Homo sapiens: one gene and its partners. The protein of the gene in region 5 purifies or fractionates together with the protein of the main gene of each other region. This does not show direct contact. Each region holds a gene or a part of one and is shown on either strand. Other genes may lie near its edges. The genes, in order: NUDT21, CAPZA2, WDR82, SF3A1, ARHGAP11A, FIP1L1 and CPSF1.

Region 1 (3,500 bases), on a different chromosome or scaffold from region 5:
GGATGCTAAGGAATTAAGTCATTCTTCTGAAAAATGTTAAGTAAAGGAATAGCAGCATATTTTTTTTTTCTACACAAACCACACACTTCAGTAATACATAAGTTTCTTTTTATATGAGGATCACAACCCTTATGAATTCATAGACCAGGAAATGATCATCAATGAGCTGCTAACATTACAACAAGAAACAACCAAATATTTTTAAATTCCTGATGGAAGTACACTATACCAATTGTGATAGACTGCCTTAAGATGACCCCCAATGATTCCTGTCTCCTGGTATTCACTGCTTTGTGTAGTCCCTCCTATAGCGTACCAGGGTTGGCTTGTGTGACCAATAGCACACAGCAGAAGTGATGGTATGCCACTGCCAAGATTAGGTTATCACAGACTGAGGCTTCCTACTTGGGCACTCCTCTAGCACTCTGTCTCTCACTATCTCTTGGATCACACAGCCTTGGGTAAGCCAGCTGCCTGAGAGTTGTCCTTTTAGAGATGTTCTCATGGCAAGGAACTGAGGGAGACCTTGAGACAACAGCCAGCAACACCTGAAGCAAAGCTTTAGTCTAACAGCCCAGATGAAACTAAGAAGTTTGCTAACACACACACGTGTAAGCTCGGGATCAGATACTTTAACCCCAGTTCCACCTTATGATGCAGTCCCAGCTGACAACTTGACTGTAACTTCATGACAGAGCCTAAGCCAGAACCACCCTAAGCAACTCCCAGAGGCCTAAAGGCTGCTAAATTTTGAGGTAATTTGTTATGCAGGTATAGATTATATACCGCCTATGACAAGCCTTGTTACCCCTCCCCAAATTAACTGAGCCTGAATACAATTTCTAGATCTAACTATCAATTTGCAAGACACACAGGGGAAACAGCTACATATTCAACAACAACAGGGGAATGCAATCGAAATGGAAACATTAGCCTGTTTTCATTAACAAATAAAACACAAGGAAAAAAAAAAGGTGCCAAGTGTGTAAAAGAGACTTTAGAGACTATCCTAATCCAAACAAATTATAAAAAGAAAATAGAAATAATCAGGATACGCGAACAGTGACTATATATTTGACAATAATATGGAATTGTTTATTTTTAGTATGATAATAACAGTACTATAGTTATCTTTTTAAAGAGATCCTTATTTTTATGATTCACACTGAAATATTTACAATTGAAATGAATAGCTAGGATACACTTCAAAATAATCCAAGATGAGGGTAGGAGAATGAAGCGGTGGAATGAGGGGTTGTGATGTGCTAACTGTTAAAGGCAGACGACGGGTAGCGCAATTCATTCACTTTTACCATTCTCTCTTCTTTTGTATTTGTTCTATTTATTTATTTATTTTTTGAGAAGGAGTCTCACTGTTGTCCAGGCTGGAGTGCAATGGCACAATCTCGGTTCACTGCAACTTCTGCCTCCCAGGTTCAAGCAATTCTCCTGCCTCAGCCTCCGGAGTAGCTGGGATTACAGGCTTGTACCATCAAACCCAGCTGATTTTTACATTTTTTAGTAGAGACGAGCTTTCACCATGTTGGCCAGGCTGGTCTCAAACTCCTGACCTCAACAGGTGATCCACCCGCCTCGGCCTCCTGAAGTGCTGGGATTACAGGCATGAGCCACCTCGCCCGGCCTTGTATTTGTTTTACATTTTCCTTTAAAATAAGAAGTGCTTGGCTTAATTTTGTAATTTAAATTAAGGAGGGAAGAAAAGAAAATTTCAAGTCAAATTCTACTTTAATCTTTTTTAAAGTGGCTAGAATTAAACGAGCTTTCTGCTTCCAAAATGCCCAGCAAATGTAACTGAACACTGACCTGAGGAGGTTCAAAATTTGGTCTCCACCAGTTACCAATGCAATCGTCAATGACCCAGTCTTGCAAAACTCCATCCTGACGACCCAGTATCTGTCAAAAAGAAATAAGCCAGTAAACAACTAAATATATGTACTCACAAATCCCCTTCTTCAGTGAACAGAAAATTCTTAGCAGTGCTCCTAATTGAAACATAGGGATAATATGCCTTCCATACAGATTTTCTATGATTTGTTAATATAGATGTCACTCTGCCCAAGACATACAATATTAGTTCAAAACTGGCAAGCTAGTATCAACATAAAAATTGTGTTCAAAATTCAGCTTTCATTTTTATTAATTTGTATAGCAGAACACTAAACTTATTTTAACCAAAGTCATACTCTACATATTTTAAGTGGCCAAAAATAGTTCTACAATGTTCATGGTGAGAAACTGCAGTTCTCTGTCCTGCTTCACCCATTCCCACTGGCTGTAACTTTCAACTCTTGGTTGTTTTTCCCCTCATGTTTTCTTCTATTTTTAAAAGCATTCTTCTTGGTCTTAAATAAACGGTTTATTTTAGGATAGTTTTAGATTTACAGAAAACTTGCAAAACTTGTTCAGAGACTTCTCATATACCCCACACAGTTTCCCCGACTGTTAACATCTCACACTAGTAAAGCACATTTGTCAAACTAATCAACCAATACCAAGACAAGATTATTAACTGAAGTCCATATATTATTCAGATATCCATAGTCTTTAACCTAATGTCCTTTTTCATTTTTCAGTCCCAGGATCCCATCTAAGATACCATATTACACTTAATCTTCATTTCTTCCGAGGTTCCTCTACATTGTGACAGCTTTTCATACCTTCCTTGTGTTTGATGATCTTGATAGCTTTGAGGAATACTGGTCAAGTATTTTGTAAAACATCCCTCAATTAAATTGAAGTTATGAGCTTTTGGGAAGAAAACTACAGAGGTAAAAGGGCCATTCTCATCACGTCATATCAAAGGTACATGCTATATCAATATGGCTTATCACTAATGGGCTGAGGTACTGTTTATCACGTTTCTTCAATGTAAAGTCATATTTTTCAAAAAAAAAATTTTTTTTTGAGACGGAGTTTTGCTCATTGCCCAGGCTGGAGTGCAATGGCGCAATATCGGCTCACTGCAACCTCCACCTCCCAGGTTCAAGTGATTCTCCTGTCTCAGCCTCCGGAGTAGGTGGGATTACAGGCACATGCTACCATGCCCAGCTAATTTTTTGTCTTTTTAGTAGAGATGGGGTTTCACCCTGTTGGTCAGGCTGGTCTCGAACTCCTGACCTCAGATGATCTGCCCACCTCACTCTCCCAAAGTGCTGGGCTTACAGGCATGAGCCACTGCACCGGGCCTCAAAACTACATTTTTTAAGAGATAGGGTCTTGCTCTGTCACTCAGGCTGGAGCACAGCGACGCAATCATGGCTCACTACAACTCCTGGCCTCAAGCAATCTTCCGGCCTCAGCCCCACAAAGCACTGGGATTACAGGTGTGAGCCACCATGCCCAGCCAAAATATTCTTTTATGACAGTTTCTTGATTTTCATTTTATTTTATTTTATTTTTTTGAGACAGAGTCTCGCTCTGTTGCCCAGGCTGGAGTGCAGTGCCGCAATCTTGGCTCACTGCAACCTCCACCACCCAGG
Region 2 (4,461 bases), on a different chromosome or scaffold from region 5:
AAAGTGCTGGGATTACAGATGCCTGGCTTGAAGTATAGTTCTTTGTATTAACTACTTAGATTTTACTGAGACTATTGTGCCATGATATTATCACTATGGAAAAATCATATCAAAGCATATAAAATACATTTTTTTCCAGAAAGTGAAAGCCATTAAGTTAAGTGATACAATGCTCATAGTGATGGCTTAGGAAAAATTACCCTTGTAAAGTGAAATAGTGAGAATAGAAAATTCAATGACAAGTTGGGCACCATGTGAACCTGTAGTTCCAGCTACTTGGGAACCGGAGGCAGGAGGATCACTTGAGCCCTGGAATTTGAGACCGGCCTGGGCAACACAGCAAGACTCTGTCTCTAAACAGAAAATAAAACTCAAGGACAGACATTTTCTTCATTTTATATATGTTAAAGCTCAAAGGAATTAGATTTTAAAAAGACAAATTAGTAAGCTTATTGTAACAGCTCCAATGTATTATAAAGAAGAACGTAGTAAAAAGAATTTTCTTCTAATAGTAGCTCCATCTCAACAAGATTGATTTTATTATGTGTTTCCTGGCATAAATAACATAAATTAGTAATAATTTTATAAATATTGTTTCAGGATTCTAGATTAATGCTACAAGATTTTAGACCCAACACAGAGAAACTACACTTATATTAAGTCCATAAAAGTAACTCTATATGACAGAACCTTTAGGGAACTGTGGCTAGTCATTAAGGCATACATTCACATATGGCATTGATTTTCCTTCAGTGATGATGGATCTGCATTCCTCCAAATATTCTTGGTTAACCTTGCAACCCTGCATTTATTTCTGAGATGGCTAAGCAGTGGAGCAACCTTGGGCCATGAACCCAACTGGCCCACAGGGGTTACCTGTTACTTTACCCTTAATAGCACCACCAACCAACTTGGCTAGTAAGTCAAAGGCTAATATACTAAAAGGTAAATATTATGACCATACTTATTCTGGTGACCTCAGCATGTAAAACAGGGATAAACGTAAAGATTTCATTCAATTATGGACTTGTAAAGTCTTAAAGAACCTCAGAATTTTGTAACAGGTACTCAGAAATAGTCTTGTCTAAGAATAAAAATGACCAACAACTTGTCAAAGGTCCAAGACCAGTATGGTAAATCAGTGCTCCTGAGGGCTTGAAGTTTATAAGGAATAATGGAATTATTTGTACACAAAATTACAAGGCATGAATGTAATCTTCCTCATTGTATAAAACATGTCATTATTTCCTCACATTGGCTAACCAAGTACAAAGCAATCCTCTACTTCAGAGTCACAAAGTTCACAAAAGTAGTATCATTTTTTGTTCTATAATTATCTTTGTTCTCCTGCACATAAGTTTCATTCAGGAACAGCCCCTTCACAGAATGAGCATATGGATTGCCAACTGGTGTTCTCGCAGGCACACATGCTCCCTCAGGATGCTGTTTGCTAGTCCCATACTCTTTCCACTGAATGTCAACAGATTTACCACTACCTTTAGTGATTAGGCTGTTGAGCAAATTTACCTTCCTTATATCAAAAGGCTAAAATTTTATACCATCTCTAAATTGTTCTTAATCATAAACAAACAAGGTGTAGCCCAAATCACTAAAGCAAGAACTACAAAGACTTAAAACAATGCCAAAACTCCCCAATATCCAAAATTTTAACTTACCAAAAATTTTTTGCTTGGAACTGATGGCTTTCTATGCATGCAATAATGGTTTGCTGTCCATCTATTTTTTTGCCATACACCTTATTGGCAAAGAAAATAAGCATAAGAATGAATTTAGGGCCATGGAATGTCCAACTTTAAAAATCTATAAAATACTGCAAATTGTACAGTACTTTGACAAGAACACATAAAATACAAAGTAGGCCATCATTCCAATATAGTAGCTAGAAAAACATGTTCTCAAATATTTATGCGTAATCAAATTATTAGTGGACCACAAAAGGGGACACTAAATAAAATACAATTCATTAAAATTAATTGTACTCTGAAATATTCACGAACATTCTAGATAATCTACTTTCATAAGTAGATAATTTATTTTAAACATACAGATGCTAATCTAGCTTTTTCCATGCAAGTGAAAACTGGACCTAGCTTGTGATTATCACCTTTGTTCACTTCACAATCTTAGGGGCTGCTGTTTCTTTAGTCACTTAAAAGTACTGGAATAAATTAACTTACTTATAAGTGAGAAAGGTCGTTAAGAGAATGCCTGTGATGTATCACAATGCTATTTCACCTCTTGCCTACTGCTTTAAAAATAATAATTAATTTGTGCCTTTCAATCCTCTAGAATAAATGAGGACTCTCTAACAAGTACTCCCTTAACTCTCGTTATTCCTCCAAAATAATCCTGATGAACAAGTTATAATTCAAGTAATACATAAGATATTTGAGGTTATGTTGCAATATTTCTCAAATAATCAGAGAGCTAGATACTTAAGCAGACCATATGAATTTTTGTCCTAACCAGGAAACTTCCAAGAAAGAAATGGGGTACGCTACTGGTGATATTAATAATTACATTGAGAAAGCAGGTATAAACTAGGATATATGGTAGAGTTAGGTTGGAGGGGTAAGCAGAGGCCACGTGGTCACAGGGCCTTTAAGCCACCTTCAAAAGCCTGGACTCTTAAGTCCAGGCAACGGGAAATCTCTGAAGGATTTCAAGCAGGGAATTTTAATGACCTGATTTGCATTTCAAAAGATCACTCTGGCAATGGAAAAGGCCACTGAAGCACAAACTGGGGGTGCTAAAAAAGCCTGTCAGGGTACAAATAATATTATGAAATTTTTAAAAAAGAAATGTATTCCTACTACCATATTTTGTATTTCTTTTTTTTCTTTTCTTTTTTTTTTTTTTGAGACAGAGTCTCACTCTGTTGACTGGGCTGGAGTGGAGTGGCGCAATCTCGGCTCACTGCAACCTCTGCCTCCTGGGTTCAAGCAATTCTGCCTCAGCCTCCCGAGTAGCTGGGACTACAGGCACGTGCTACCACGCCCGGCTAATTGTTTTTTTTTTTTTTTTTTTTAAGTAGAGACAGGGTTTCACCATGCTGGCCAGGCAGGTCTCGAACTCCTGATCTCAGGTGATCCACCTGCCTCGGCCTCCCAAAGTGCTGGGATTACAGGCGTGAGCCACTGTGCCCAGCCATATATTTCTTGAAAATATAAAAATAGGTTGAACCTACGAAAGAACCACACAAAAAACACAAGAAATGTAACTGTAAAATACAGAAACACATAATTTTACTTCCAAGTAATTTTATTTGTTCTAAGATTTCTGTGACTTAATAAAAATAACTTTGATCTAAACTGAGACGAGTCATGAACATAAGATTACAGAATCTCACCATATCCTGCTCCTTTAATCAATGTATTAGAATTTCTACATGGATTTAAATCAAGGTACAACCATTTCTCTATTTTAAGCCATCCTAGTATATCTATTTATTATCCAGAATTTCTTGAAAAAATAGTAAACATTCTTAGAAATATTTAAGGAAAAAAATGACAAATTATACAATGTCAATTCTGTAAGTTACTGTAAATTTTAAGAGACGCTAAAGACTCACATTTACACAAAACACACACACAAAGCTGCTACTGATGACTTACAGTGCAGACTCCATTCGGGTAATGTTCTTTTACGTAAGCTCTCAGAGCAGTTTCTACTGAAGTTCTCCATGATTCAACTGCATTTTCTACTTCACAGGGTCTTGGATCAGTTGCCTCCTTCCTTAAGTGATCAAATTTAAAACAGATTCTGTTCTTTGGATCCAAAAACTTTCCATTTCCCAAGTCGCCATGTTCTGTTATCAATACCTTTGATGATGGAATGAATTTAGAAAAAAAATAAAAAAACAGCATTTCAATATTGATACATCATAATTACACTCATTTAAGCTTCTTCCTTAAAACTATAAAACAATCCTACTCCAAGCATATATTTTAACCATATGGTACAACTATTAATACTTCAAATGAGTTGACTATACAGACAATGACATTACTCTCATCCAGTGCAGATCAGATTTTCTCCCAATATAACTTCCAGCTACTGGTGAAAAAAAATGCAACCTCTAAAAACACTGTTCAAGTGGGTTTGGTGGGTTTTCTGCTTTGAGAACTCTAACAGTTTACAATGTCTGGTATCAGACTCCAGTTCCTCAAAACTACAGAACTTGTGAGAACCTCCAATCAGGGTGGTTACCTGAATGGCTTTGGTCTGGTGCAAATCCTCTTTGGTGTGTCCCCCACCTTGCCTCTGGGCCCACAGTCTTACCTACTTTGACGTATCTGTTTCTTGCTTCTTAAAAACTACATTGACAACTGATTTTAATTGACTTCCAAGTATTTAAAAACATACTTCATTTCCATAAATTTAAATAATACATCCACAATGCATAATGTATAATCTGATATTTTGTGCTTTATTTAAAAA
Region 3 (4,461 bases), on a different chromosome or scaffold from region 5:
TTCACATCCCACCCCACAGCAAAAATGTGCCCAACCCCAGTGGCTCTGGTAGCCCTCTCTCCTAACCAACCAACCCCGATGCTCTAAGGAGACAGAAACACTCTTTCCTCTATGTGAAAGTAAAATGGTTCTGTTTTTCTCCAATAATCACTGTCCACCTTCCACCAAAGCAGACCCCCCGCCCCCTTTTTTTTAAAGGAAGGGAAAAAAAGGAGTGCTGCCTGGGAGGTGGGTGAATAAGTAACCTGTCCTCATTGCTAATCCACCAGGTTACCTCCAACAGGCCCCCACCTTCCTGGGCTGTAAAAAGTAAGGAACTGGATGGTTTTGCTGTATTTTTTCTAACATTTTTTTCTTGGTTAAAAAAAAAAAGCAAGGTGGCAATGTGCTCCGGGTAGGCTAGTAATGAAATGTCTCATCCCCGAATACCCAGGCAGGTTTAGGAGATCACAAGGGAAAACTGGAGCTGAGACTCACTGATCCTTTGTTCTGTTAGTATTATCTAGGAAGAGATAAGGGCCTGGAGTTAATTCTAAGTGGTGAGTTATGACCAACTGTAGAAATTTCTGGGAATTTGGCGTAAACCAACAGGAATGGAAAACTGAAACCACAAAAGGCCGGTTCAGAGTATTTTAAGGAGCAAAAAAATTGCCAAGCATAGCCCAGGTAGTTTGGACCTAAAATTAGGGTCCAGAGCAAAAACTGGCCTATGATCTCCTTGGAACTCAAAGATGATTCCTGATCACCTCTAGGAAGAATAAAAATGAAAGGCAAGACCAGCCCAGCCAGAGATCAAATAATAGGAGATGAAATAGGGAAACCACCAGTTGAGAAACATGTACTTGGATGCTTGTAATGTACCTATGTAGAACACAGCTTGCTGTGCTTGTTGAGGCACCCACCACCCCAACTGGGAAGGGTCCCTGAGTAGCAGATACCTCTTACTGTTCACATACCATGTTGGAACACGCACTGGCAAAAGTCATGAACTTGGGGTTGAATTGCAAACAGGTAATCGGGCCTGTGTGTTTACCATCCAACACAGCTACTTTTATACCGCTCTCTCCATTCCAGACATGGATCTTGCCATCCTCTGAACCTAAAGAGGATATTCACGGAAAATGTAACAGCTCAAGGCGCAATACAAAGACAACTGGAAATGAGACATGGATTGAGATCTGAGGATACGCCAAGCTTTAGGACCCATCCCTCAGGCAAAATTGAGAGGGAGGAGAGGCAGTGAAGGAAGGACACTTTGGAAATTTATCTTGACCCTAGCTATTTGTTCACAGGCATGTCACTTCCGTTCTAACTTCAGTTTTCTCATCTAAAAAAGGGGCCGAATACCATTACCCTACCAACAGGCAGCCACTAAGATGACTGAATGTAGGGTTACACCAGGACATTAGCATTACTAATAAGGTAGTGCTTGTGGAGTTTAACTCAAATTTTGGTCCAGTCAGGGCAGTTAAAAGACACTATGTCCTTGGCATAATGTGCTATACAGAAATCTAAGAACATCTATCAAATAGATAATAATGTCTCAGTTAATAATTTAAACAAAGAAATGCATAGTACCAGAGAAATAACCCCCACAGGGGATAAAAGGAAACTCACCAATCATAATAAACTGAGAGTCTGGAGTAAATGAAGCCTCCAGTGTGACAGCTTTGCTGTTGGCATAACCCTAAAACAAAACAGAGCAGTTCTTTTGTTCTTACAGAGCCATTAATAAAAACAGCTGCCTACAAACACTGACTCAGCACATGCATCACCTTCCTTTCCATGAAACCCTTTCCTTGTCATGTACTACACCACCAAGCTTCCAAATGTGGTTGCCATCGTTGACAATCCACTCCCACCCTCAACTCTGTATTCAAGGCATACTCAAGGGGGCAAGAAAACTTTATTGTTAGGAAATTATTTTATATCTAAATACCAAACTTGGGTCACTTGGTGAGAAATGAACATCTACGAAATCCAAGAGAGGTAAGTTCATGAGCAGGAAGAAAATACAAGTGCATGCCTTCATGAGTAAGTCAAGAGTAACTGTTGGTCTCCACCAACCAGCTAACATAATTCTTAGCATAGGAAGTATGAGCATGGAAACAGCCATGCTTGAAGGCTGTCAGCTCACCCCAAATGTGTGCATCACCACTCCTTTGAATGCATCAATCAGACGAATGAAGCTGCCGTTGGTGGAAATGAGGATGAGCTTGCCATCATTGCTGAATTTAAGTCCTGTCCACTCACAAGTTCGATCATACTGCATCTTAAAGGTAGCAAATGGCCCCTGCAAAAGATAAAAAACAGTAGCCCCAGGCATATTAATAATTTCTTCTGCTAGAGCCAATTCCCATCCTATTCCTTTAGATTACTTTTTGACTAAGGAAAGCAGAGAATGAGCTACTTCTCTGCCACTCTCTAATATCTACCACATTTTTCCTTTTGTAGAAAAGGCTCTTACAGGGCCGGGCGCGGTGGCTCACGCCTGTAATCCCAGCACTTTGGGAGGCCGAGGTGGGTGGATCACCAGAGGTGAGGAGTTTGAGACCAGCCTGACCAACATGGTGAAACCCATCTCTACTAAATACAAAAAATTAGCCAGGCGTGGTGGCGGACACGTGTAATCCCAGCTACTTGGGAGGCTGAGGCAGGAGAATCACTTGAACCTGGGAGGCAGAGGTTGCAGTGAGCTGAGATTACACCACTGCACTCCAGCCTGGGCAATAAGAGCAAAACTCTGTCTCAAAAACAAAACAAAACAAAAAACAGCTCAAAGATCTCAAAGATTCAAAGATTTACCTTATCAAAAGAACGAAGGTCATAAAGCTTGACCATTTCAGAGTTGACACCTGCAGCGAAAATTAACCCTTCTGGATCAAAAGAACAAACTGGCTTCCCCTGCAGATGCATGAGGCCCTAAGAGAAAAGAAATAAGAAATACACTAAAACACACATGCCACAACCATACGTGGAATAACCAAAGACTGCTGGTACAATGGGGAAAAAAAAATGAATCCAGGACCTTACCACTATATAATTTACTTTTCCCAATTAAAACTAAGAAAGGCATACAAACAAATATCAGCCTACCTACAGAACACACACAAAAAAAACATAAAACTAAAATGAAGCTTTTAAAAAACAGGTCTCCAGACAACAATTTCTGATCAACTCTAACTGCACAATATTACAGACACAGAATTCAAATAAAAATAAATCCCTTGAAGCTAAAAGCTCTAGGAACACTTTTAAAAACATTAAGCCAGCTGGGCGCAGTGGCTCACGCCTATAATCCCAGAACTTTGGGAGGCCAAGGTAGGAGGATCACCTGAGGTCAGGAGACTAGCCTGACCAACATGGAGAAACCCCGTCTCTACTAAAAATACAAAATTAGCCAGACATGGTGGTGCATGACTGTAATCCCAGCTACTTGGGAGGCTGAGGCAGAAGAATCGCTTGAACCCTGGAGGTGGAGGTTGCGGTGAGCTGAGATTGCACCATTGCACTCCAGCCTGGGCAACAAGAGCGAAACCCTGTCTCAAAACAAAAACAAAAACAAAACAAAACAACAAAAAACCCACAACAATTAAGCCACAGAGTACAATGCAATCTGCACTAGATTAGGGTATGTGCTTAGCAGCTACCAACTAAAAAAACAGATTTTCTCCAAAGTTTAAAAAGACCCTGTGATCCCAGAATGGAACCACTGTTTTCTCCCTTCTTTGAGAGGTAGAGTTCATTACAGTGCCTACCAAAGAAAATGCTCAAAAAGTATAACTGTGAGGTACCATTACCTGGCAGTTAGGAGACCGGAGATCCCAGAGTCGAATGGTCTTATCAAGAGACCCAGAAATGAAAGTGTCATCCACAGGTGACATGGACAAGGCCACCACCCTGCAATACATCGAGATAAATAGGAGTTGATGCGAAATATTAGCAAAAATTGGATGTGAATTCTAAACCACTCTGCCTATCTATACATATATATACCTGTTCTCCCAAAATTGCCATTTTAAGAAACACAATAAAACACACATACCACAACCATATCTGGAACAAACAAAGGCAACTAGTATAAAAAAAAAAATTTAAAGCTACAAAATAAAAATATATGATTCCAATGCAAATCAAAACCACAATGAAATACTACTCCACACCCTCTAGCATAGCTATAATAAGAGAGATAACAAGTGTTGGTGAGGATGCAGAGAAATTGGAACCCTCATACATTGCTAATGGAAATGTAAAAATGGTACAGTTGCTTTGGAAAAGTTTTTCCAAAAAAAGTTACCACGTGACCCAGAAACTCCACTCCTAGGTATTTACCCAAGATAACTGAAAATATATGTCCACACAAAAATGTACACATATGTTCAGATCTGCACTATTCATAACAGCCAAAAAGTAGAAATAACCCAAATGGTCCATTAACTAATGGATGGACAAACAAAATGT
Region 4 (4,461 bases), on a different chromosome or scaffold from region 5:
TCACCTGTGCATCTGGGCTCCTGGATTCTGGCCTGATTCACCACTGATAACCCCTTGTGAGGTTGTACAAGTCACCCCCCTTTGCAAGATTAGGTTTCTTTTCTTTAAAACAATCTCTATCTTGTCTCTTGGTGAGTCTGGAGCTAAACTGAAGAACTTTAGTGAAAATACTCTGCACACCCCAAGGGAAAAGAATATGACCTGCAGGGTCGGAAGACCTGGATTCCCAACTCAGCTTCCCAGCTAACAAGGTTTGTCTGAGCCTCAATGTCATTATCCACCAGACAGGGTTCATGACTGTTTTGAGTATTGAGGGGAAGTGTCTGTAAAGTGCTTAGCTCTATCCTGGTACTTAAGCGTTTAAGAAATGGGAACTATTATTAAAAAACAAACAGAGCGGGTGCAGTGGCTCACACCTGTAATCCCAGCACTTTGGGAGGCCAGCGTGGTGGATCACTTACGGCCAGGAGTTCAAGACAAGCCTGGCCAACGTGGCGAAACCCCATCTCTACTAAAATACTAAAAATACAAAAATTAGCTGGGTGTGTGGTGCACACCTGTAATCCCAGCTACTCCGGAGGTTGAGGCATAACAATCACTTGAACCCGGGAGGCAGAGGTTGCAAAAACAAAACGAAACAATTTGGTCAAATACATTGGGGGAGCAGAGGCCGGGGCTGTTTCTGTCTCCTTACTGCAGCCTGACAGCTTCCCTAGTGATTAGCAGTGACAAGGTCCCCACCTCCCCTTATTCCAGGACCCCAACAGGATCCCACCCAACAGGCAGACCTCCTAAGGGCTAGAGCTGGGGAGGAAGGCCACAGTAAATTTTAAAACACCACACACAATTTCCTCCAGGTGTCTAGGGTCCCTCTCACACGTGAGTTGTGCTGCCCGTGCTGCTGGGTCTCCCTGTTGGCCTCTGTAAGTCTACACCAGAGGGACCACCACAGTCACCACCTCTGCCACCACTACCATCACCATCACCACCAATGCTCTCTGCTCCTCCAATTGTTGGCCCCACATTCACTGTGTGCTCAGAAGCCCTTAGATGCCTCCAACAGCTGACCTAGGCCCCAGAAGCCAAGACTGGGAGTGAAATAGGGTCAGTTTCGCAAGTGTACGACAGGGGCGGGACTGAACCCTCCAGCTAGAAACTTCAGCAGCATTCTGGGATTACATACCTTGTTTCTGCGCAGGAACTCCTCCTCTGGCATGAGGCTGTCCTCTGTCTTCAGTTTTTTGGAGGTGGGCTCATCTTCCATGGGAGGTGGGGGATGCACAGGGGGCATTGGGGCTGGAGCTGGGACAGGTGCCACAGGTGGAGCAGGCACAAAGGCTGCAAAGACAAGAATAAGCAGCCCCATGAGAGGGCAGAAGGGGCCCAGGACTCAGGGCTGATGAGAAGTTGAGAGGGAAGGTTGCAAAGGTTTCCTCTAGTCAGAGGTGTCAAGTGCTGTTCCCTGCTAAGTCTGGCAGCCAGCAGGTTCCCTGGCAAGGGGACCTGGGAGGCTGCCCAGATTGGACAGCAGAGGACTGCAGGAGGGGCAGGACTGATGGATGGAGCTAGTGCCAAGCAACAAGCATTTCTCAGGCCTCTGAGCCTGTTGGGGACCTGATCCCTGAATGCACAGACACTGGCTACACCATTTCAGCCTCTCATTTCTACCAGGAACGGTGGCTCCCAGCTCTAGGGTTGCGGATCTTTCAATGGGAAGCCAGGGCTCTCCTCTGGGCTGGATACCCTGCTGGAACAGCTGGCACTAGCATCAGCCACTGCTCTGCTGACAGTACTTGGCCCGTGGTCCCTGAACTAATGGCCTGGAAAATGATGCAAGAGATACTGACCTGTTGGCACAATCATGGGGGGTGGGCGGGGGGCCATAATAGGAGGGGCCGAGGGAGGCATGGGCACCACGTTGATTCTGGGCGCGTGGATGATGGGCGGCATGGGGGCGATCACTGAGCCTGGGGGCAGCCGGACCACAGATGCCATTGGGGGCCGGGGCATGACGGGTACTGCGGAGACAACTGTAGTACGAACTGGAGGTGGCATCTGTGCAGGAAAGAGACCCACAGATTACAGGAAGCCAAAGTTGGACTCCAAGGTCACACACAGTTGGCAACTGGCTGCCTGCAGCTCTGAGGATGGAGGTTAGACAACTACGTCCTGGCCCCCTGGGACTGAGAAACTGTGGCCTACACTGGGCGTCCAATAGGAACTGAGCTGCTGAGAGCCCGAGGATGACACTCTCTCTACTTGGGACTTGGCGGGTCAAACTCGACCTGCTACTTTGGCAAACACTGAAAGAGTCACTAAAGAGGCTGAGACCTTGGCCAGGCACAGTGGCTCATGCCTGTAATCTCAGCACTTTGGGAAGCTAAGGCAGGCAGATCACCGGAGGTCGGGAGTTCGAGACCAGCCTGACCAACACGGAGAAACCTCATCTCTACTAAAAATACAAAATTAGCTGGGCATGGTGGCGCATCCCTGTAATCCCAGCTACTTGGGAGGCTGAGGCACGAGAATCACTTGAACTCGGGAGGCGGAGGTTGCGGTGAGCCAAGATCATGCCATTGCACTCCAGCCTGGGCGACAAGAGCAAAACTTCATCTCAAAAAAAAAAAAAAAAGAGGCCGAGACCTCGACTAAGTCTCTCCTGGAGACAAGCCAACAGTCCTCAAAGACCCAATAAGCCCTGCAGCCCTTCTCTGACGCCAACTGGTTTCTCATATTTGCCACTTACCTCCCTCCCTGTTCCAACCCTCCTCCACAAACAGATCAAGAGAGAGGTTCCCACTTGCATTTAAAGGGCTCTTTCTCTTTCAAACTGACCCACCCAACACTCAGGCCCCACTAAAAGGCAGCTGCACTTCTCAGCCAACAGTGTCCGACCTCAAGAATGAAGCTCTAAAAAAGTCAGTTCCAGGGTAGATGCTGGCTTACTGTGGGTGGTCGGGGCACTGAAGTGATGGGTGGAGCCGAGCTGGGGATGTTGGTGGCTGAAGATGGTGGCGGTGGCTGTTGAGGGATTTCATTGGGCTTGCTGGGGCCAATCTTCTCTTTAGTGTCATCCTCTGGCACCAGGCCTTTGGCCTTGTGAATGGCCTCAATCTGCTCCTGGAGGGTGATGTTGGCCTGGGCAGCCTGCTGGGTCCGGGCCATGCTGCCTGAGTGGCCATCCCAGGTCACCTGCAAGTGAAAGCAAAGCCACAATGCTTCTGGAACTAAGACCAAGTATGGAAGACGGGGGGCAGAGAAGGCACTAGGTTCCACTTTAGCCGCACCTTTTCCTCTGGCTTCTGGATCTCCTCCTCACCGATCTTCTTACCAATGGCTGTTTCCTCTACACCGAAGATGTCAGTACGCCGCTCAGCCAACTGCTTCAAGCTGCTCTCAATATCCAGACCTGTACAGTCACAAAACAGAGGCAGAGGATAGAAAGAGAAAATAAACCAGGTGTCCTGACAAGAGAGCAGCTTTTCTGGTGTGCAGGGAGGAGGCTGGTTCCATGGGATGAGGGTGACTCAGGGCCCCAACTCTTGTCCTCTGGGCTCGGGGAAAGCTGCCCGATCTAAGCCTATAAACCCAGTGCTTGGGCAACCCCTCTGACTTAGAAAAGAACGGTAGGCCAGGCACAGTGGCTCATGCTTGTAATCCCAGCACTTTGGGGGGCCAAGGCAGGAGGATCACATCTGAGGTCAGGAGTTCGAGACCAGCATGGCCAACATAGCGAAACCCCGTCTCTACTGAAAATACAAAAATTAGCCGGGTGTGGTGGTGCGTGCCTGTAATCCCAGCTACTTGGGAGGCTGAGGCAGAAGAACTGCTTGAACGTGAGAGGCGGAAGTTGCAGTAGCCAACATGGAGCCACTGCACTCCAGCCTGGGAGACAGAGTGAAACTCCGTCATTCATAAATAAAACACATAAATAAATAAGATGGTGAGTTAGAGAGGGCAACTGTGTGGAAAGGGCCACATGGTGTAAGTGGCAGAGTCAAAACTAGAAGCCCAGTCTCCCACCTGTGGCACAGTTCCTGCCCCATTCCAAAGAGCTCATGGTACTCCAGCCATCAATGCTCTCCTTCTAAACAGCCACAGGAAGCCCTTCCAGCTAAAGCCAGAGCTTGCTCTGGGATGTCAACAGGCACATGGCATCTCCTTCAGTGTCTGCCTTTGGGGAATTTCTATGGGGAGTTCTTCTGGAAAGTGGGGAGTTCTCTTGCAATATCATAGAGTGCAACTCTCCTCAAAAGCTTTTGTTGACCTCAATTGTTGCTTTCTATGTTTGCTTAGAAGAAGATGGCTGTAATTCGGAGACTACCATGGGCTCTCCTGGAACCCCCACCTCACCTGGTGCGTACACCTCATCATCGCTCTGCTTCTCACGGATGGAGCGATCCCGCTGCTCCAGCCAGCGAGGGTCAAGAAGTCCAATGCGCATGTGTTCCTGCATTTTGC
Region 5 (4,461 bases):
AGAACAAGATTTGGAGACAGGCTTGAGTTTGCTCCATCACTTACTAAATGGCTTTAGGCTCTGAAAACGGACTTCTATGATGAATATTACTGTTATCTATATAAAATATTTAGTCAGTATCTAGTACATAATACCAATTAATGGTATTATAAAAAATAAGCTATTGGCAAACAAGTTGGAATCTGAGTATTTGAGATATACCTGCTGGCCAACTGCTACCCACCTGACTCCGGAATGTAATTTGTTCAATATTTTTGGCAAGTAAACAAAAACTAATTATTCTATAACACATTCCTAATCCCTTGGCTGCTGCTGTGTTCCATGCAAATAATTACTGGTACAACAGAAGCTCAATTATTTAACACCATTTATATTATGAAATCAACTATAGTAAACAATTACGAAAGAAGTAAAATAGTTATGAACAAAGGCTCCATATACATTTATGTTTGAATCACGCCCAGGACACATTCAACAAACATGAACCCTCTCAATTCATCTGAGTTATTAATAAAGAATTCACAAAGTTTCCCAGAGACATTCACATTTTTTCAATTATGAAAACGGAAAAAATACAACCACCTTAGAAACTTTTGGGTGCATTTAGCTAAAGAAAATTTTGGAAGCCAATATTATACATCTAAAGTGACATAAGTAGCTTTATTCTAGGGCTGCAGTCTAGTCACTTTAAAAATGTGTCCGGCCAGGCACCGTGACTCACGTCTGTAATCCCAGTATTTTGGGAGGCTGAGGTGGGCGGATTGCTTGAGGCCAGGAGTTCAAACCAGCCTGGCCAACATGGTGAAATCCCATCTCTACTAAAAATACAAAAATTAGCTGGGTGTGGTGGTGCATGCCTGTAATCCCAACTACTCAGGAGGCTGAGGCACAAGAATCACTTGAACATCGGAGGTGGATGTTGTAGTGAGCCAAGATCATGCCACTGTACTCCAGCCTGGGAGACAGAGCGAGACTCCGTCTCAAAAAATAAAAATAAAAAATGTGTCAATGGTCGCAGGAGGCACAGTCAGAATATATGGAACAATGCAAATTTATCACATCTGTAAGAAAATTATGGCCAGGCATGGTGGCTCACACCTGTAATCCCAGCACTTTGGAAGACCAAGGCAGGTTGATCAGCTAATGTCGGGAGTTCAAGACCAGCCTGGCCAACGTGGTGAAACCCCGTCTCTACTAAAAATGCAAAAGAAAATTAGCCAGGTGTGGTGGTGGCCACCTATAATCCCAGCTACCTGGGAGGCTGAGGCAGGAAAATCGCTTGAACCTGAGAGGTGGTGGCTGCAGTGAGCCGAGATTGTGCCATTGCACTCTAGCCTGGGCAACAAGAGCAAAACTCTGTCTCAAAAAAAAAAAAAAGAGACAATTATGAATAGATACTCTATGGACTACAGACTAATGTTGCCTTTATATATTTTTAAAAGCATCATATTTGTTATAATCTAAACTTAGAAATCAATCTATTTTCAATTTTGCAAATGGAATTTGTTGAATTGTGGCTGAGAAAGTAGGGTCAAAGAAAAGTGGTGTAAAAATAATACGATTACTATTGTTGAACTTTTAAATTTTTTTATAAAAAAATTCATTGATTAGGCAAGCTCAAACTAAAAATAGCACAAGACTGTTTAACCTCTGTTTTGGGAGCTTGGAGGAGGAGAAGAAGGAATCAGTATGTTCATTCCTTGGGGAAAATGTAATGCTAATAAGCAAAGGCAGGTAGAACTACAACTCCCATTTGCCATTTGGAAAAAGTCCTCCAAACTGCAAAGGATATATTCAAAAAAAAAAACAACTGAACTATGTTACTTAAAAAAGTTTAAGTCTCCAACCTGTGAACACTGCAAAAGCTACAGACATAAGCTTCAGAGTTACTATCATCACATTTCAATGAGCCCTAGAGAACCTGTGAAGAAGTGTTTTTTTCTGGAAAACCTCAAGTTGCTATTCTGTTCAACTTCTCAATAAAACAAATAAGAACCCTTTTGGACAACAGAAAAAAGAGACAGGCTTTGGGAAGGAACTCATATAACTCAGATAATGAATCAAAAATGAAACTTAACATTGTCTGAAACCAACAAAATAAAAAATCTAAAATAATCAGAGATCACTCACATTTTGACTAAATGTAAGATAAATGAGATGGAGGACCCTGGGCTTAGAGTTTCATTTCATTTTTGGTTGATCGTAAGGTTAATATGAGCCAACTTGAATTCTGTATATGCTAAAAGAGCCAATTGAATCTAAGACCCAGACTAATCTCCGGATTAGCATGATCATACTCTATTACTCTCTGAAGGCTCTGGTTGGCCACATTAGAACTTGTAGTTAATATGGAAGAAAATGGCTGGGCTGGTAAGGGATCTGGAAGCCATGGCACAAGGAACAGCGTCAACAAAGTTCTAAAGCTTTTACAAAAGGTACTTGAGTCTAAAACTTTAAAAATACCCTCATTTTCAAACCATAACCTGCAATAGTAACGCTCCCACTTGGGAATCAGACATGATCAAACATCTGGCAACCTCAATTCAACAAATGACAGCAATAAAGCCACAGCTATAGACCCAGATGTAACTATAGCAGGATTCAGGATGTCTAATCACATAAAACCTAAGCATCAATGCTATCACCAGAAGCCCAAACTACTACTCTGGGTTATCACAACTTTCAATAGATGTTGTCATAACACACACACACACACACACACACACACACACACTATATTGAAACAGTGTCTATTTTAAAAGGCAGGGGGTTTTATAAAAATTCATAGGTTGGATAAAACAGAATAAAGTTCTAGTTCCTAAGGGTGGTATTATTAATATGAAATTGCACTGTGCCCAGAATAGGCACTCATTTTAATCTTTACAATCCATTTATATAAATTCTATTTGCTACCTGATACCGGTGTAGAACTGCTATTGAAGAGATTACTTGGCAACAGCTCAAAGTTAAAATTGTGCTTGATGGACTTCCTTTTCTTACTTGAGAAACCATGAGAAGAATCTACTGGCAATGTACGCTTAGCATTTGGTGTAAGAATCACTGGTGATTCAGATAGCTGGGCTGAAAAAATATCAAAACAAAACCAACTTGTTTCTACTGCAGAGTTGACAACATATAAAAGCTTTACATAATTTCTTCTTATAAAGCTATTACTTAGAGCTAAACAAAAAATGAGAATATATTTACATCATCAGTTAAGTAGATGTTGTTTAACTAAAACACTCTGCAATTACTTAAATGAAAATAAGGAAGTCGCAGAGGCAAGACTCTTAAGAGACAGCAGTTACTTAAATCTAACAGACTAAAAGATGCATATGATATACATTAAAGAATATTAATGTAAGGAAGAAATTACAATCAAGGAGTTGAAACAAAAACTAATCTAAATATTATTTTTGCTTTTCATCATAAGTGAGTATTAACCAGTTCATTTCTTCACTCTAGAAAACAGAAGATCATGTTGACTCTTACTGGCTGAATAATTTCAGCCACAAGCAAATTAGAATAAAAAATTGAAATATACAATAATGAACTTCTAGTCCTAAGATAAAAATGAGGTTGAACTATTTTCACACGCTTAATAGCATCTAAATTACAAACAGAAAAGCATGATTAAGAAGATTAAAGACAGGAGACTAAAAAAATTTTTGCCTACAATTTTGGGTTCATTATAGCCTATGTAATTAGCAATGTCACAACATAGTGTGTATAGTACAGTATGACTATTAAAAATAATATTTGATTTGATTAAACTAAATTTGATTACTAAGTTAGGTAATTATTATTGTAATTGTATTTTATAGAATACTATACAAATTTTAATTTAAATAAATGCATATAATAAATACCTACCAATTCTTTCTTCTTGAGGTGTAATAGAAGGTGTTCTGTTAGGTTTAAATTTATTTAGTGCTCCACTAACAAAATCTGAAATGCAAGGCATAAGCAATTACAACTTCACATTTACTTGTCTTTCACCAATAATTCATATTAATATTTGCAGTCTTCTTTCAACATGTAACTTTACATCGGCTTATAAATTTTAAGTTATTTAAGAGGAATTATTTCAAAATAGGAAAAATACTAAAGGATATATTTTTATTCCATTCCCCACTTATACTTCCATATCCCTAAAATAAAAAAGACACAATACAGAAAGAAATGTAATACAAATACATATAATGTACAGTAAGGGTAGGGAAAAAGAAATCATTACATGTTAAGGCAAAAGATGAAGGTCTGAACTGAGGCAAGAACCATGGAAATGGAGGCACGAATAAAAGTATTTAAAAGATCAGTAGAGATGGAAGTAAAAACATTATATCAATAAATAGTGTAAGCAAATGAATAAAAGTGTCTGGAAAATAAATAACATAGTTTGACTAAAGTTGCTCAAAGACAGGAAATAGTAGACAGGTATGCTAGAGCAATCCTATGAAA
Region 6 (4,461 bases), on a different chromosome or scaffold from region 5:
ACTGTAGCTCCACAGCTAGAAATGCAAAAATTACAAAGTGGACCAAATATTACTACTGTCAAGCAGTACTATCGTCACCAACTTGAAATAATCATTTCATAGGCTGATTAATTCATGTAATGCTTACTGAGCACCAAACCATGTCAAGTATGGTTCTAGGCTGAGGAAAAAGTATGAGGAGCTGGACAATTACGGTTCCTGCCTTCACGATGTTTACATTTTAACAATCCAAATTCAGAAAAAGTGACTTAGCGGTATCTACATATGATGTACATGATTTTTCTACAAATGTACAAAAATCAAGGATTTTCTCTAAACTGTTCTCTTACAGGACCGTATAGAATAAAACAGTATTTTTATAAAAGGCTTAGCCACAAGTGTTCAATAAATGAGCTTCTTCGCTTTCCACCTAGCTACTTTCTATTCCCCATTCTGCCTTTTAAAACATCATTTTTCTTTTTTAAGCCACAAGCCTTTGTAGAGAAGCCTGTGTAGAGAAGCTTAGTGGTATGAAAAATTGCAGAGGCAAATTTGATATAATGTCCAATAGATCCCTATGAAGTCTCAGACCACTCTAAATGCTAGATCCTATACTTGGACTTTCTATAGGAACTCCAAAATAAACATGTCAAATGAATCTGTTTTGTGGGAGGTGGGAGCAGTAGCACCCACCTGTACCCAATTAACTGCTCTAGAAATCTTTAAGTCACTGAGCCCTTTATCTCCTCCTCCATCCACAACCAACCAGTTACCCATGTTATTTGTTTCTATTTATTCTTTGAGACAGGATCTTACTATATTGCCCAGGCTGGCCTGAAACTCCAAGGCTCAAGCAATCCTCCTACCTCAGCCTCCCAAGTCCATGGGACTACAGGTGTATACCACATGCCTGACTATATTTCTGTTTCTCTAATACTCAAATGTACTATTTTCCCATTCATCTCTCTACTACTGCTGCCTTAGTCTAGATTATCATCTCACCTGGACAACTACTTCACATCTATTAGTCAATGTCTCTCTATCTAACCCATCTCAACTACTGATGCTAGAGTTATCTTTTCAAATGATATGACCTGTCTAAAAACCTAATTAGGGGTGTCTAAGGGAGAGAATACAGTCATGAGTCCTTAGTTTCTGTTTCTGGTTAGGCCAGTAAAGCCCCTTTATCACCCCTCTTTTCCACTTATCACTGGAGACAGAAACTAAAAACCATGGCTTTGGGCAGCTAAAAGACTAAAACAAAGCAAAACAGAACAACAACAGCAACAAAATAAGGTGCATTGGACAAGCTTGCAAGGTCTACAAAGACATAGCAAAAGCATCCTAACTCCTTCCATAAGTGATTTCAACCATCTCTTTTCATCTACCTTATCCTCCAGCCATGTACTTCCTCCAAGGCACGCATCTAATATATTTATTGTTAGGCAGTGTCCTCCACCTAAAAACCACTGTCTCCCATCTCAAAAATTATTCAAACAAGTTCAAATGTTACCTCTGGGATCTTCTCTTCAACACCTGTAGGCTTTTAGCAACTCTCCTCTCAAACCTTTCGAATCACTTTGTACATGTTTCTATTCTAGCACTTATGTTGCACTGAAAATATTTACTCACATGTCTGGCATCCTCACTACCTCTGGAAAATAATAACTTCCTGTATTCTCATCAATTAATACATTCACAGATAAAAAATTGCTGCTTTCATGTAACTTTATCTAATTTGTTAACTCCATGAAATTTCATGGTGATTTTACCAAGGGTTCTTTTGTAGCATGGTAAATGTAAAAACAATAATAATAATGGAATGATCACAGATGGTTTGATAAAGGCACATTATCTTTGCTACTTAACACAGTGCCAGATAAATTATGTCTTTAAAAATTATTTATTGAGTACATAAATGGATCAATCTCACAGAGATAGGTAACAAACTACTTTCCAAGATAAATTATTTCTACTTTAAGAGTTGCTTTTCTTCATACCTTACTTACATATAAAATGAACTTGTAACAAAGGTATGTTACGCAAAAAAAAAAAAAAAATGCTATTTTGTATTTCCTAACAATTTACAATAAATCAATTCAGTCCTTGGACACAGTTTGTTCTTTAAATTTGCTTCTGAAAACGCTGTGCATAAGTAAATGTTTATCAAATTTCATTTTCTCACTGACTTTGTTTTCAAGGGATATACCTTGAAATATAGAGGTTAAACAACTTTACACTCTTCACAAATGCCTGTACTTTACTTTCGAAATGCATAAAATGAATAAAAAATAAATCAACTGATAAATGGGTAAACGCATAGAGGGATATGAGTTCAAGCAAACAAAGCAAAATGTAGATTGTATAATCTAGGTGATGGGTAAATGAGCATTCACATGTCAATTCCTTCAACTTTTGTGAGCATTTGAAAATTTTCATAATCAAATGTCTAAGGGGAAAAACCCTCAGAGACAACTGTAACTAAATAACATTCAGTTTATTTAGTCAATAACCATTTACTGCACACTTAACTGTATTTAAGGCAATGTGAGGAATAGAAAACTCCATAAATCACAGTTTCTTGTTTTTTTGAAGAGTTTTGAATTCAATGGTTTCTACTCTATAGAAATCTGAAGTGTGTAAAGGTAATAAATATGTATAAACATAATTACAATGCATAAAACTGAAAATTGCTATAAGAAATAAAGTTTAGTAAGGTACTATGGAAGTCCACGTATATTTAATATTTGAGTGCAATTTCTACCAAAAAAAGGTCCCATCCATAATCCAAAAAAATTGTCATTTGCTTCAAGTTGTTCTATAACTTGCAAATACAAATAATTTTACATAACATTTAATGAACATGCAATTATTACAATTTTATGTGTTCCTTTTGCATCATGCAGATAGTAAAGGCCTACTAGTACTACAGTATAAGCCCAACTTTCTCATTAAGTAATTATTTACTTTCCCAAATGAGAATGAGGAGCACATTTAGAATATCCACCCCTAACATGAAAAATCAGCCTCTTTACTCTGTTCCCTAAAAAGGTGCTAGGATTTTAAAATTACATGGGTAGTCATTATTATAATACAAAACTGACTATGACAATAACTGAATTGGCTTTAAGCTTCCTGAAATGACTTCTGAAAACAAATGACTCTACTAATAAAATATTTAACAATATTTTTGTATATACTGGTTGATTCCAGATGAGGTTGCTTAATGAACTATAGTGAAATTAATGTATTTTATGTTTCCAATGCATAAGCTATAATAACCACATTATACAGCCAATTTGAAAAACAAAACACATTGACTCTTATTCTCCTATCGTAACTAAATCACAATTCGTACTTCAATGTATTTCCCTTCCAATCTTTCTGTAAGATTCTTTATGCGCTCAATGAGTCAATGACAGTCCATTTACTTGGTCCAGTTTATAGAATACAAAATTGGAGACAAACATTGGCCTAAAAGGCCTAAGGGAGAATTAGAAACCTGAAAACACTATTAAGAACAAAAAGAAATACTTTTGATATTGTTTTTATTAGGCAAAAAAATTAAAAACCTAAACTCAGGTCTGGATAATAAAGTGAAATAATAATAAGTACAGATACAAATTACAATTTAAGGATTTCTAATTCTAATCAAAGAATTTATAGTACTTTTTTTTTTTCTTTTTCTCGAGACAGAGTCTCACTCTGTTACCCAGGCTGGAGTACAGTGGCTCGATCTGGGTTCACCGCAACCTCCACCTCCCAGGTTCAAGTGATTCTCCTGCCTTAGTCTCTGGAGTAGCTGGGATTACAGGTGCCCACCACCATGCCTGGCTAATTATTGTATTTTTAGTAGAGATAAGGTTTCACCATGCTGGTCAGGCTGGTCTTGAACTCCTGACCTCAGGTGATTCACCCGCCTCGGCCTCCCAAAGTCCTGGGATTACAGGCATGAACCTCTATGCCTGGCCTAGCACTCAATTCTTTTATAAAAACACTTTAAATTCAGCATCAAAAACTGCTGCTTCTATGTACCTTCGCCTAATCAATTAACTGTATTTTAGCAAAGAAGTATATTCATGATGAAACTTTAACAAGTTCTTTTATGTTAAAATAGAAAAATGTAAAAACAATGGACTCAACCACTGAGAGTTTGATATAGGCACACTCTCCTTACTATATAGCATTTACACAATTGTTACTTACTAAAAAATAACTTACCCATACTGTGGTGCTCCCGTTTTAATGTCTCCTATAGTGACATGAACATCATCTTCATCATCATCGCTGTCACTATCACTATCATCTTCGGTCTCAGTCACTTTCTACATGAACATAAACAAATTATAAAATACATTCAGTAATCCATTTCAACATCTAATACTAATAACTAAAAAAAGTAACCACCCTGTTTTTTTTTTTCTTTCTTCTGTCTTGAGACAGACTCTCACTTTGTCGCCCCGGCTTGAGTGCAGTGGCATG
Region 7 (4,461 bases), on a different chromosome or scaffold from region 5:
TAAGCCCAGGAGGTCGAGGCTGCAGTGAAACATGATTGCTCCTCTGCACTCCAACCTGGGAGACAGTGAGGCCCTATGTCAAAAAACAAAGGCCTGGCGTGGTGGCTCATGCCTGTAATCCCAGCGCTTTGAGAGGCCGAGGTGAGTGTATCGCTTGAGGTCAGGGGTTGAAGACCAGCCTGGCCATGGCAAAACCCTGTCTGTACTAAAAATACAAAAATTAGCTGGACGTGGTGGTGGGCGCCTATAATCCCAGCTACTGAGGAGGCTGAGACAGGAGAATCGCTTGAACCTGGAAGGCAGAGGTTGCAGTGAGCCAAAATCACACCATTGCACTCCAGCCTGGGCAACAAAGTGAGACTCCATCTCAAAAAAAAAAAAAAAATTTTCCTCCTATTTTTGCTTTACTAGGAGTTTTTATCACGAATGCCTTTATCAGATGCTTTTTTTGTATCCACTAAAATGACATGATTTTTCTCCTTAATTTTGACAGCATGGTAAGTTTAGCGATGGCTGTTCTTGCGGAAATCTAGTTTTGCGTTCCTGGAATAACTCAACCCAGTTGTGTTACAATACCCCTGCTTGTCACTGGGCTCATCTGCAGGCGTTTTGAGGAGGTTGGTGTCACTTCCTGTCCCACCTGTCTGTGGGCTGTTGGGGTGGCCTGAGCCACCTGCGGTGCCGTCAGCCCCACATGAGTGGGTGTGTGTTTTTTTTTTAAGTGTGTCATTACTTCTGAAACCTTTGGTAGAATTTGCGGGTGAAGCCCTGGAGTTGCCCTTGTCGCTGTGAGATGGGTATTGGTTTGTGGATGCTTCTTCTGTATCTCTTAACCAGCTTCCAAGATGCCCTCCCCATAGCACAAGTCCATCGTGAAAAATGACCTTGAGGTGGCTCACGCCTGTAATCCCAGCACTTTGGGAGGCTAAGGTGGGCGGATCACCTGAGGTCAGGAGTTCGAGACCAGCCTGGCCAACATGGTGAAACCCTGTCTCTACTAAAAATACAAAAATTAGCCGGACATGGTGGCACGCACCTGTAATCCCAGCTACTTGGGAGGCTGAGGCAGAATCACTTGAACCCGGGAGGCAGAGGTTGCAGTGAGCCAAGATCACGCCACTGCACTTCAGCCTGGGTGACAGAGTGAGACTCCGTCTCAAAAACAAAAAACAAAAAACAAAAAAAAACAAAACAAAAACCACTTTTCCCTTGCCTTGAGGCAATGGCATATAAATCTGCTAGCTAGTTAAACTAGCTACCTAGTAGCAAAGAACACACAGCCTCTTATCATTCTGGGAGGGCAGTGAAAAGGGAGGAGATAGAGAGGCAGCCTGGGGGAGCCCGAGGCGTCAGGATAGCGCAGGGCTTCCTCTTCTCTAACAGGCACGCAGATCAGTAGCTACAGATACCCCTTGGCTCTGGCTTCCTGCCCTGTGACATTTGGACCCAGGGGCCGGGGCTGGGCTGCTGTAGGTGTGCAACCAGGCAGGTTTGGGGGTGTGCAGACACAGAGTGCACTCTAACCCTGAGTGCTTGCCGCACAGGGCCTGGCTGCTAGGGAGCCGTGAGGTAGGGGCTTCCTGGGGAGGGGCCTGTGCCAGGGCTGGGCCGTGGGCATGAGAGCGTGAATGGGGGTCGCTGTGGGGGGCTGTGCACAGCTGTCTCCAGAAGCCCTTCTCCCTGCTGCAGAGAGGGTTTGGGCAGAGCTCCCAGGAGGCAGGGGCCAGGCTTGGTGGTCTTTTCTCGTTCCCCGGATGAGGTGAGCTGCCAGATGTGGCCCCTCACTGCCCTGTCTTTCTCTCCCCTCCAGGCTCTGACCAAGAATGACAGGAGCACAGGTGAGTGTGGTGGGGCGGCCTGGGGCTGTGCGGGTGCCAGGCATGGCTGGGCCCTGACCCTGAGCCCTGGTGTCTCCCCTAGAGGGGAAGGCCCACCGGGAGAAGCTCGAGCTTGCTGCCTCCTTCTCCTTCTTTGGCAACGTCATGTCCATGGCCAGCGTGCAGCTGGCAGGAGCCAAGCGGGATGCCCTGCTCCTAAGCTTCAAGGATGCCAAGGTGAGTGGTAGGCTTGGTGGGGTAGGCCTGGCCAAGGCGTGGGAGTGGGTGCCAGGGCCTGGGTACAGCCGTTGGTTGCCGGGGGCGACACTGTCAGGACCGGCAGTCGGCAGCCACGGCTGTGCCCTCTGACCGCAGCTGTCTGTGGTGGAGTACGACCCGGGCACCCATGACCTGAAGACCCTGTCACTGCACTACTTTGAGGAGCCTGAGCTTCGGGTAGGGCCGCGCTCCCGCCCCCGCCCAGGCCCCGCCCAGCCACCCTCCCTCCCCCTGCAGCTGGGTTCTGTGGCCCCAAGTGTTTCCCTCGGGGTCTCCTATGCTGGGCCTGGCTGATGCCCCCTCTGCCCCCAGGACGGGTTTGTGCAGAATGTACACACGCCGCGAGTGCGGGTGGACCCCGACGGGCGCTGTGCAGCCATGCTTGTCTACGGCACGCGGCTGGTGGTCCTGCCCTTCCGCAGGGAGAGCCTGGCTGAGGAGCACGAGGGGCTCGTGGGTGAGGGGTGAGTGCCAGCTGAGGCAGGCTGTGGTGCTGGGGTGGGAGGCGCCAGAGCCCGAGCTCCCCTCCCCGCCTCCCCTCCTCTCCTGCTGAAGCCCCTGGCCCCCCAGGCAGAGGTCCAGCTTCCTGCCCAGCTACATCATCGACGTGCGGGCCCTAGACGAGAAGCTGCTCAACATCATCGACCTGCAGTTCCTGCATGGCTACTACGAGCCTACCCTCCTCATCCTGTTTGAGCCCAACCAGACCTGGCCTGGGTGAGCCCCCTAAGGAGGCCCCTCTGCACTGTGGGCCCCCTAGCTGCCTCTGCCTGGGGTGGGGCCCATGGGGTTTAGGGCGGGGCCTATGGGGTGTGGTGGGGCTTGCTCGGGAGGAGCTGGGCCTGGGTCTCTGCGGGGAGGCAAGGCCCTTGGCTGACCCACTGGCGTCCCCAGGCGCGTGGCCGTGCGGCAGGACACGTGCTCCATTGTGGCCATCTCACTGAACATCACGCAGAAGGTGCACCCCGTCATCTGGTCCCTCACCAGCCTGCCCTTTGACTGCACCCAGGCTCTGGCTGTGCCCAAGCCCATAGGTGTGTGTCCTGGGAGTGGATAGGGGAGTGTGTGGAGAGAGCACTGAGCCTGCCCACCAGCCTGTGTCCACCTCCAGGTGGGGTGGTGGTGTTTGCCGTCAACTCGCTGTTGTACCTGAACCAGAGCGTCCCCCCGTATGGCGTGGCTCTCAACAGCCTCACCACAGGAACCACGGCTTTCCCGCTTCGTGAGTGTGGGGTGGCTGGGGCGGGGGGGGCCCGGGGACGGCTTGGGCCTGCCTAGTCGGCCTGACCACCCACCCCACAGGCACCCAGGAGGGTGTGCGGATCACCCTGGACTGCGCCCAGGCCACCTTCATCTCCTACGACAAGATGGTCATCTCCCTCAAGGGCGGCGAGATGTGAGCCCCTCCCCCGCCCATGAACTCTGCCCACACCGCCCCCCACAAGTCCTGTAGGGTCCCCTGGCCCCCTTCACTCCCCCAGGGTCCCCATCCCCGACTCAGAATTCTCCCTGCCCCCAGCTACGTGCTGACCCTCATCACCGACGGCATGCGCAGTGTCCGAGCGTTCCACTTTGACAAGGCGGCCGCCAGCGTCCTCACCACCAGCGTGAGTTGGGACTAGGGGTTGGGTCTGGGTCCAGACCCGGCCCAGCCATCACACACCTGCCCTCCCTCAGATGGTCACCATGGAGCCCGGGTACCTGTTCCTGGGTTCTCGCCTGGGCAATTCCCTCCTCCTCAAGTACACGGAGAAGCTGCAGGAGCCCCCGGCCAGTGCTGTCCGTGAGGCTGCCGACAAGGTGGGTTTCCTGGGCCCATTGGGCCACCACCCTTCATGTGGGCACTGCTGTGGCATGCCACTCAGTGCCCCTCCTGCCTCACAGGAAGAGCCTCCCTCAAAGAAGAAGCGAGTGGATGCGACGGCCGGCTGGTCAGGTGAGGGCCGGTCCAGGGCTGGTCAGGAGCGGGGCCAGGTGACCCAGGGCTGCGCTCAAGTGGGCTCTCTGTGTGCAGCTGCGGGTAAGTCGGTGCCGCAGGATGAGGTGGACGAGATTGAAGTGTACGGCAGCGAGGCCCAGTCGGGAACACAGCTGGCCACCTACTCCTTTGAGGTGAGATTGAGGCAGCAGGGCCCCCGTCCCAGCCAGCGCCCCCAGCGGGCCCCTGACTCTTGCTGTGCCGCAGGTGTGTGACAGCATCCTGAACATTGGACCCTGTGCCAATGCCGCCGTGGGCGAGCCTGCCTTCCTCTCTGAAGAGGTGCCCAGGGTTGGGGTCGGGGCTGGGGGCAGGGGCTGGAGTGTGAGGGGGGGTGGGGGGCATAGTCCTCACCCCCGAGTCCTGTGCAGTTTCAGAACAGCCCCG

Evidence for each region.
Region 1: the proteins of ARHGAP11A (region 5) and NUDT21 purify together in Homo sapiens (affinity purification with mass spectrometry, with the first as the bait; one large-scale study listed by BioGRID). This does not show direct contact.
Region 2: the proteins of ARHGAP11A (region 5) and CAPZA2 purify together in Homo sapiens (affinity purification with mass spectrometry; 2 studies listed by BioGRID and IntAct, with this or other methods). This does not show direct contact.
Region 3: the proteins of ARHGAP11A (region 5) and WDR82 purify together in Homo sapiens (affinity purification with mass spectrometry; one large-scale study listed by BioGRID and IntAct). This does not show direct contact.
Region 4: the proteins of ARHGAP11A (region 5) and SF3A1 purify together in Homo sapiens (affinity purification with mass spectrometry, with the first as the bait; one large-scale study listed by BioGRID). This does not show direct contact.
Region 6: the proteins of ARHGAP11A (region 5) and FIP1L1 purify together in Homo sapiens (affinity purification with mass spectrometry, with the first as the bait; one large-scale study listed by BioGRID). This does not show direct contact.
Region 7: the proteins of ARHGAP11A (region 5) and CPSF1 purify together in Homo sapiens (affinity purification with mass spectrometry; one large-scale study listed by BioGRID and IntAct). This does not show direct contact.

The regions. Positions count from the first base shown.
Region 1 is NC_000016.10:56,437,833-56,441,332, forward strand, and holds part of NUDT21 (cleavage and polyadenylation specificity factor subunit 5), read right to left. Parts: intron 1,915-3,500; coding exon 1,825-1,914; intron 1-1,824. UniProt on the Homo sapiens protein: Component of the cleavage factor Im (CFIm) complex that functions as an activator of the pre-mRNA 3'-end cleavage and polyadenylation processing required for the maturation of pre-mRNA into functional mRNAs.
Region 2 is NC_000007.14:116,903,558-116,908,018, reverse strand, and holds part of CAPZA2 (F-actin-capping protein subunit alpha-2), read right to left. Parts: intron 3,843-4,461; coding exon 3,636-3,842; intron 1,757-3,635; coding exon 1,677-1,756; intron 1-1,676. UniProt on the Homo sapiens protein: F-actin-capping proteins bind in a Ca(2+)-independent manner to the fast growing ends of actin filaments (barbed end) thereby blocking the exchange of subunits at these ends.
Region 3 is NC_000003.12:52,257,580-52,262,040, forward strand, and holds part of WDR82 (WD repeat-containing protein 82), read right to left. Parts: intron 3,901-4,461; coding exon 3,801-3,900; intron 2,923-3,800; coding exon 2,806-2,922; intron 2,294-2,805; coding exon 2,138-2,293; intron 1,688-2,137; coding exon 1,618-1,687; intron 1,100-1,617; coding exon 957-1,099; intron 1-956. UniProt on the Homo sapiens protein: Regulatory component of the SET1/COMPASS complex implicated in the tethering of this complex to transcriptional start sites of active genes.
Region 4 is NC_000022.11:30,335,843-30,340,303, forward strand, and holds part of SF3A1 (splicing factor 3A subunit 1), read right to left. Parts: coding exon 4,354-4,461; intron 3,410-4,353; coding exon 3,288-3,409; intron 3,193-3,287; coding exon 2,947-3,192; intron 2,056-2,946; coding exon 1,848-2,055; intron 1,339-1,847; coding exon 1,184-1,338; intron 1-1,183. UniProt on the Homo sapiens protein: Component of the 17S U2 SnRNP complex of the spliceosome, a large ribonucleoprotein complex that removes introns from transcribed pre-mRNAs.
Region 5 is NC_000015.10:32,628,215-32,632,675, reverse strand, and holds part of ARHGAP11A (rho GTPase-activating protein 11A), read right to left. Parts: intron 3,949-4,461; coding exon 3,874-3,948; intron 3,082-3,873; coding exon 2,914-3,081; intron 1-2,913. Other genes in the region: ARHGAP11A-SCG5 protein, read right to left, coding at 2,914-3,081, 3,874-3,948. UniProt on the Homo sapiens protein: GTPase activator for the Rho-type GTPases by converting them to an inactive GDP-bound state.
Region 6 is NC_000004.12:53,383,616-53,388,076, reverse strand, and holds part of FIP1L1 (pre-mRNA 3'-end-processing factor FIP1), read right to left. Parts: intron 4,305-4,461; coding exon 4,201-4,304; intron 1-4,200.
Region 7 is NC_000008.11:144,399,023-144,403,483, reverse strand, and holds part of CPSF1 (cleavage and polyadenylation specificity factor subunit 1), read left to right. Parts: intron 1-493; exon of another isoform or gene 494-617; intron 618-1,369; exon of another isoform or gene 1,370-1,569; intron 1,570-1,810; coding exon 1,811-1,838; intron 1,839-1,920; coding exon 1,921-2,054; intron 2,055-2,192; coding exon 2,193-2,273; intron 2,274-2,408; coding exon 2,409-2,560; intron 2,561-2,666; coding exon 2,667-2,813; intron 2,814-2,990; coding exon 2,991-3,130; intron 3,131-3,138; exon of another isoform or gene 3,139-3,207; coding exon 3,208-3,318; exon of another isoform or gene 3,319-3,398; coding exon 3,399-3,492; intron 3,493-3,615; coding exon 3,616-3,703; intron 3,704-3,773; coding exon 3,774-3,896; intron 3,897-3,980; coding exon 3,981-4,032; intron 4,033-4,110; coding exon 4,111-4,208; intron 4,209-4,281; coding exon 4,282-4,356; intron 4,357-4,445; coding exon 4,446-4,461. UniProt on the Homo sapiens protein: Component of the cleavage and polyadenylation specificity factor (CPSF) complex that plays a key role in pre-mRNA 3'-end formation, recognizing the AAUAAA signal sequence and interacting with poly(A) polymerase and other factors to bring about cleavage and poly(A) addition.